Homo sapiens: one gene and its partner. The protein of the gene in region 2 purifies or fractionates together with the protein of the main gene of each other region. This does not show direct contact. Each region holds a gene or a part of one and is shown on either strand. Other genes may lie near its edges.

The links. Proteins that work in one complex are often made in the same cells at the same time.
Region 1: the proteins of ARMC1 (region 2) and MAP2 purify together in Homo sapiens (affinity purification with mass spectrometry; 3 studies listed by BioGRID and IntAct, with this or other methods). This does not show direct contact.

Annotation. Positions count from the first base shown.
Region 1 is NC_000002.12:209,426,832-209,430,561, forward strand, and holds part of MAP2 (microtubule-associated protein 2), read left to right. Parts: intron 1-3,730. UniProt on the Homo sapiens protein: The exact function of MAP2 is unknown but MAPs may stabilize the microtubules against depolymerization. They also seem to have a stiffening effect on microtubules.
Region 2 is NC_000008.11:65,627,678-65,631,177, forward strand, and holds part of ARMC1 (armadillo repeat-containing protein 1), read right to left. Parts: intron 1-3,500.

The DNA of each region.
Region 1 (3,730 bases), on a different chromosome or scaffold from region 2:
GAATAATTTCATTCCTTTACCCCTTTTGGTTTAAACCAGTTCGCAAATTTTCTAAACATCAGAAGGGAAAAGGAAGAAAAATGTTGGTGTATTTTTGTGTATTTTCTTATCACACACACATATTTTGTATTGAATTTTACTAGCAGTTAGACAACAGACTGGACATGCTATTAACAAATGTAGTTGCACTGTTGGCATTTTAAAAAATCATTATTACATTTGCTTATAGGACAATAGGTGCATCCTTCAGTGATTCATTGATGTCCTTTTGAGACTGACCATATGAAACTGACATGGGGATTTTAGTATTCAAGTTGGTAACTCTGATTATTGAATCCTTTCAATACTTAATTTCCTCTTAACAGATTAAGATAAAGAATCTGAAATAATAGTTACAGTAGAAGATAGCACCACCCCCAGATCAATACTATCCTCCTTAATGCTAAAAGTAGTCACTTTAGGTAAGTCATTAGTAAATGCATGAACCTGAAGATAACAGTTTTGAAACAATCTCAAATTTTTTTGTCTCTGTTATAGATTAGTTAAAGATGCTAATAAACTCTTTGAGTCATATCTGATTCTCTCAGATATATCAAGTGTTTTTGCTACTTTAATTATCTCTTTACTATTGCCATTACCTTTATCTACTCAATCTAGACCTTTTCATGTAAGGACTGTATTTTGATCATTTCACCATATTTTCCCTCCCTTCACATCATTCTTTTTAATTCGACATTTGGATGTTAGACTTACTGTTCTCTAGCTATTTTGGTTTCAGTAATGTTACTCTCTTGATACAAATTTGGCCTTTATTTTTCATTAAGGAGAGCACTTATTACCATTTATGTATTTATTTATTCATTATGAGAAACAACTTTTGATATTCTCAGTTTTCAATTGCAGAAAATGATTCTAGGCACCAAAAGCAGTTAAAAGTCTGCAAATTAATATGTAGTACACAAAAGGCCAAAGTCAAGGGAGACAGTCTGTATGAAGGTTTGGGTGGGTGGGTAGGTGGGTGGGCGTAGAGGAAGATGTGGAATGAAAGCAAATTCTCAGCTATTAAAAGCTGTCCATGTAGGGTAGAGATGAGCCTTTTTGTCTAAGAGGGTGAAGAAGGAATAAATGTTTTGTTTTTCTGTTTCAACATATTTTGTCCCCATCCCTCCCCTGTCATGTCTTTGAACTAAGGCCATGGTGCTTCCTTATAAAAATTATACAGTATGTTTATTGGAAGGAGTTTTACAGTGAATTAGGTGAATTCAGAATTTTAAAATGATGTGAACACAATTAGATGAATTTTTATGAAAAACACTTTGAATCTAATCTTTGATCTTTCCTGTTCAAGACATAAGCTTTCCTTTGAATGGTAGTACTTTAACTGTAATACATTTTACTTAAACATTTCAGTAAAATTCTATGGAAAGTTAGACAAAATAAAGAGCTCAGGATCCTCTTTCAGTCTACTGTTAAGTTTATATTGTGGAAGTTGGGGAAAGTTTTAGACAGTTTGTTTTCCGTTAAAACACACACTAGAGGGGGCAAATTTCTTTTTTTTTTTTTTTGCTTTTTGTTATGTTAATGAGCAAATAATTTACTTTTAAGATCACATACCTTGACTTTTTTCTTTCCTTTTTTGTCTTCTTTCCATTCTCCTCTTTCCCTTTTCTTTTCTTCTTTACTTAGATTGCTCCTTTCTTTCAGTTTGTATTGGCAAAATAAACATTGGTCTTTAGAAAATGAAATTATAGCCTGATATTCTTATTGAAATTTATTTTTCATTATATTTATATTTCTCATTTAACATGAAGTTTTATGCTAACCTCTCCTCCTTCTCAAGGCTCCATCCCTATCTTGGTCCTTTCTTTGAACTTGGCTTTTATATCCCCTAGGCTTCAACAGTTTTTTCCTTGTATACCAATCTTTCATAACGCTTTGTACCTCAAAAAGGCCTTTAAAAACCAGAAGAAAAGTTACTACCCTATTTCTCCCGATTAGTTTGTATCCAAGTTTATTCAGGTTCCCTTAGGTTATAGGTAATTGCTCGCCTCAATGTGTCCTCATTAGCCTTCTTTGAATTACTTTATTTTATTTTATTTATTTATTTATTTATTTATTTATTTATTTATTTATTTATTTTGAGACGGAGTCTCGCTCTTTCGCCCAGGCCGGAGTACAGTGGCGCCATCTCGGCTCACTGCAAGCTCCGCCCCCCGGGTTCACGCCATTCTCCTGCCTCAGCCTCCCGAGTAGCTGGGACTACAGGCGCCCGCCACCGCTCCCGGCTAATTTTTTGTATTTTTAGTAGAGACAGGGTTTCACCTTGTTAGCCAGGATGATCTCGATCTCCTGACCTCGTGATCCGCCCGCCTCAGCCTCCCAAAGTGCTGGGATTACAGTCATGAGCCACCGTGCCCGGCAATTACTTTAAAGACATTTTCAGACAAAAGTAATACATGTATACAACGAATTTTTTTAAATAAAAAATTTGGCTAGCCAACTGACTTTTTATTATTTTGTTCATCAGACACTATAAAACATGGTTCAACTAGTTTTTTTTTTTTAACAACTAGTAAAGTTACTATGTGTCAGGCAGTCCATTGTCTTTATGTTAGTTAACTAGTTCCACTAATGTGTACCTATTAAGTGAAGTATGAACTACTCTATGAGCAATCAGTAAATGTTGAACTAAATTAATTTAATTTTAAGTAAAATATTCCTAATTACATTTCTCTGTATAGCATCATCATTAGCCATCTTAATCTACCTCAAAAATGACCATAAAATACAGTGCTTGAATATCATGAGATATTTCATCGCTTAACTGTCTAGGTCCTTTACAGTTAAAGCAAACTCACAAGTAAATATACAAACTGACTCTATTTGAGACAAAACCATCATTTCAATATGAACCCTTTACATTTATTTAAGTAGTAATGGATTTTAGGTGGCTACTACCTTTGCATTACAACAATTTAAAAGTACAACATTGTGTTGTTAATGCATGGTGCTGAAATTACATAATGAATTGGCATGAGAAAGTGTTCATCAATTTTAAAATGAATAATATGGTATCATTTTGATTGGTATTAAGGCAATTAAATAATGCTCGGCTTTGACATTTTACTATTTTATTTGGGTATTGTACCTCTCAAATTGGTAATTTTCTCTTCCCTTAAGAGTCTACCTTTTTGAGCAAAATAATGTATTAAGTAATAGGCTGCCTATTTTTTATTGTTGTTTATATGATTCACTACGTCCTTTTGGCCCACTTTGAAAAACAAGCAAAAAAGTTTTTAGGATTCAGTTATTCATTCTTTTTATCTTAATAGGTCATCTAGTATAGCCAGGAAAATATTTGATTCTTTAATTTGCTACAAAACTTATTTATTGTTTGAACAAAATTTTCAATCTGTAGCATACAATTTCTTTACTTAGTGGATGAGAACATGGAATTATAATACTTGTAACAACTTCTCAGCCTGCTAATTTTGTCTACCTGGTGTTTCACAAGGGCTAACATGATGGTGGCAGTGGTGGTATTTGTGTGTTTGTGTATAATTACTTTCTAAGATAGAGTTAGACTTTTATATATTTGCTTTTTTCATTGGTGAAATCAATTATTATGCAATCAGTTGATTCCACATGAGAACAGTTGGTATTAAATACAATTTAATAGGGAAAACAATGACCAAGTATTTATTAATGAAATCAAATTAGATTAATATTA
Region 2 (3,500 bases):
TAGCACACATATTTTAACAATAAAATCACAATAAAGATCTTTACAGTTCAAGCTAGTAAGCTTTGCTATACTTCTAAAACTGTTAATATTGCCAGTGCTTTTTATCCTCTAGACTATTTCTAGCCCTAAAACAAGTGCCCGAGGGAAAAGTGGCTAGTTTACAGCTTTCTTATTCATCAGTGAACAAAAACCTAGCATACTCTGTCTACAAAGAATAAAATGCCCTTGGAAAAAGGAGGCAGAAGTCTGTAAATCAAGAAGACAGGAAAGGTATTTAGCCTGTGGCTCAGGCCAGTAGAGTGTGAAAGATCATAGTGAATCTACACTGAATCTAAATACCTCTGTCCATCTGATTATGCCATATTCTACTGCCTAACAGAAAAGCAAAAATAGGAAGAATGAAGTAGAATTTGACATAATTCATTTGCCAGATGAGGAGCTAGTCATAGAGAGGTTCAATAATTTGCCCCACATCACAAAATCTAGTTAGCATAGAACTGGCCTAAAATATTATTTACTATTTCCTAAACTCATCAGCAGTCTTTCCACTTTGCATACTTTGTTTTCCTTGTTTGTTTTGTTTGTTTTCTCCAAGACAGAGTCGCATTCTGTCACCCAGGCTGGAATGCAGTGGCACAACCTCAGCTCACTACAACCTCCGCCTCCCGGTTCAAGCAATTCTCCTGCCTCAGCCTCCTAGCCACGCCCGGCTAATTTTTTTTTTTTTTTTTTTTTTTTTTTGTATTTTTAGTAGAGACTAGGTTTCACCATGTTGGTCAGGCTGGTCTCAAACTCCTAACCTTAAATGATCTGCCCGCCTTGGCCTCCCAAAATGCTGGGATTACAGGCATGAGCCACCGTGTCCAGCCTCATACTTTCGTTTTAAAATCAGTATTTTGGCCCGGCATGGTGGCTCATGCCTGTAATCCCAGCACTTTGGGAGGCCGAGGCAGGCAGATCTCCTGAGGTCAGGAGTTCGAGATCAGCCTGGCCAACATGGTGAAACCCCATCTCTACTAAAAATACAAAATTAGCCGGGCATGGTGGCACGCACCTGTAATCCTAGCTACTCGGGAGGCTGAGGCAGGAGAATTTATTAAAGCCAGGAGGCAGAGATTGCAGTGAGCTGAGATTGTGCCACTGCATGAGCAAAACTCTGTCTCAAAACAAGCAAACAAAAAAAATCAGCATATCGGCCGGGTGCAGTGGCTCACGCCTGTAATCCCAGCACTTTGGGAGGCCAAGGCGGGTGGATCACCTGATGTCAGGAGTTCAAGACCAGCCTGGTCAACATGGTGAAACCCTGTCTCTACTAAAAATACAAAAATTAGCTGGGCTTGGTGGTGGGTGCCTGTAATCTCAGCTACTCAGGAGGCTGAGGCAGGGAGAACTGACTGAACCTGGGAAGCGGAGGTTGCAGTGAGCCGAGATTGCGCCATTGCACTACAGCCTGGATGACAGGGCGAGACTCCATCTCAAAAAAAAAAAAAAAGAAAGAAAGAAAATGTGATATACATACACAATGACACAAATGGAATACTATTCACCCTTAAAAAAGAAGGAAATTCTGTCACTTGTGACAACATGGACAGAACTGGAGAACATTGTGCTAAATGAAGTAAACTAGGCACAGAAAGAGAAATGCTGCATATTGTTGCTTAACTGTTGAATCTAAAACAATAGAACTCAGCAGCAGAGAACAGAATGGTGGTAAAAGGCTGGCAGATAGGCAAAATGAGGAGATGAGGATCAAGGGATACAAAGTCGTAGTAGGAATAAGTGAGGGTTTTTTTGACATCTATTGCACAAGATGGTGAATATAGTTAATAATAGTGTATTCCAGATGGGCGCGGTGGCTCACACCTATAATCCCAGCACTTTGGGAGGCCAAGGCAGGCGGATCATGAGGTCAGGAGTTCAAGACCAGCCTGACCATCGTGGTGAAACCCCGTCTCTACTAAAAGTACAAAAATTAGCTGGGCGTGCTGGCGGGCGCCTGTAATCCCAGCTACTCGGGAGGCTGAGGCAGGAGAATCGCTTGAACTTGGGAGATGGAGGTTACAGTGAGCCGAGATTGTACCACTGCACTCCAGCCTGGGCAACAGAGCAAGACTCCGTCTCAAAAAAAAAAAAAAAAAAAATCAAAACAAAACAGTATATTCTCGGTCTTAAAATGGCTATGAGTTGCCAGGGGTGGTGACTTATGCCTGTAATCCCAGCACTTTGGGAGGACAAAGCGGGTGGATCACCTGAAGTCAGGAGTTTGAGACCAGTCTGACCAATATGGTGAAACGTCATCTCTACTAAAAATACAAAAATTAGCCGGGCATGGTGGCGCAAACCTGGAATCCCAGCTACTTGGGAGGCTGAGGCCAGAGAACTGCTTGAACTCGGGAGGTGGAGGTTGCAGTGAGCCGAGATTGTGCCACTGCACTCCAGCCTGGGTGACAGAGCTAGACTGTCTCAAAAGCAAAACAGAAAAAAATCGCTGTGAGTAAATTTCAAGTGGTCTCACCACAAAAAATAAGTATAAGGTGATAGATATGTTAACTAGCTTGATTTAATTGCTCCACTTTATATTCATGAATCATAACATCATTTTGTACCCCATAAATATATACAACTATAAATTACCAATTTACAATAAAATGTTTTAAAATAAATCAGGGAAAAAAGAACCAAACACTCTGGGTGTTGGCCTTTTGCATACAACGCTGGCCTTGAAACTGAAGAGTTCCATTCTCATTCAAGGAGCCATTAGATAACTATTCAGTAGGAACTATACTGAAAAAAAGTTACATAGCTTTCCTGTTCCTTTGGGATGAATAAAAATCAAAACAACTAAAACTTCCAATCTTCAGCCAGGCGCAGTGGCTCACGCCTGTAATCCCAACACTTTGGGAGGCCAATGCAGCCGGATCGCCTGAGGTCAGGAGTTTGCGACCAGCCTGGCCAGCATGGTGAAACTCCGTCTCTACTAAAAATACAAAAATTAGCTGGGCATGGTGGTAGGTGCCTGTAATCTCAGCTACTTGGGAAGCTGAGGCAGGAGAATCGCTTGAACCCGGGAGGCGGAGGTTGCAGTGAGCCGAGATAGTGCCATTGCACTCCAGCCTGGGCAACAGTGCCAGACTCCGTCTAAAAAAAAAAATACAAACAAAAAACCTTCCAGTCTTCAAAGAGCACTGATAAGGATTGGGCTCAAATCAGCATCTGCACAGGATCCATCAAAGACCTTAGCTAATGCAGTTGGTGCTCTGTATCCACAGGTTTCAAATCCTGAGACTATTGTACAGTATTTTCGATTCATGCTTGGTTGAATCAGACAATGTCATGGGTTTACTGTATAACAGAGGCAGAAACTGTGGTCACTGCATTTCCCATGGCATTTAAAGGAAGGCAAGAAAAGCTGACAGAAGCTGTGATTTGTCCCTCAAATTAGAAGGGTTTTATGTAAAACTTCAGGAGAGAACTCCTCACAGTTAAGACTCATTTTTCTT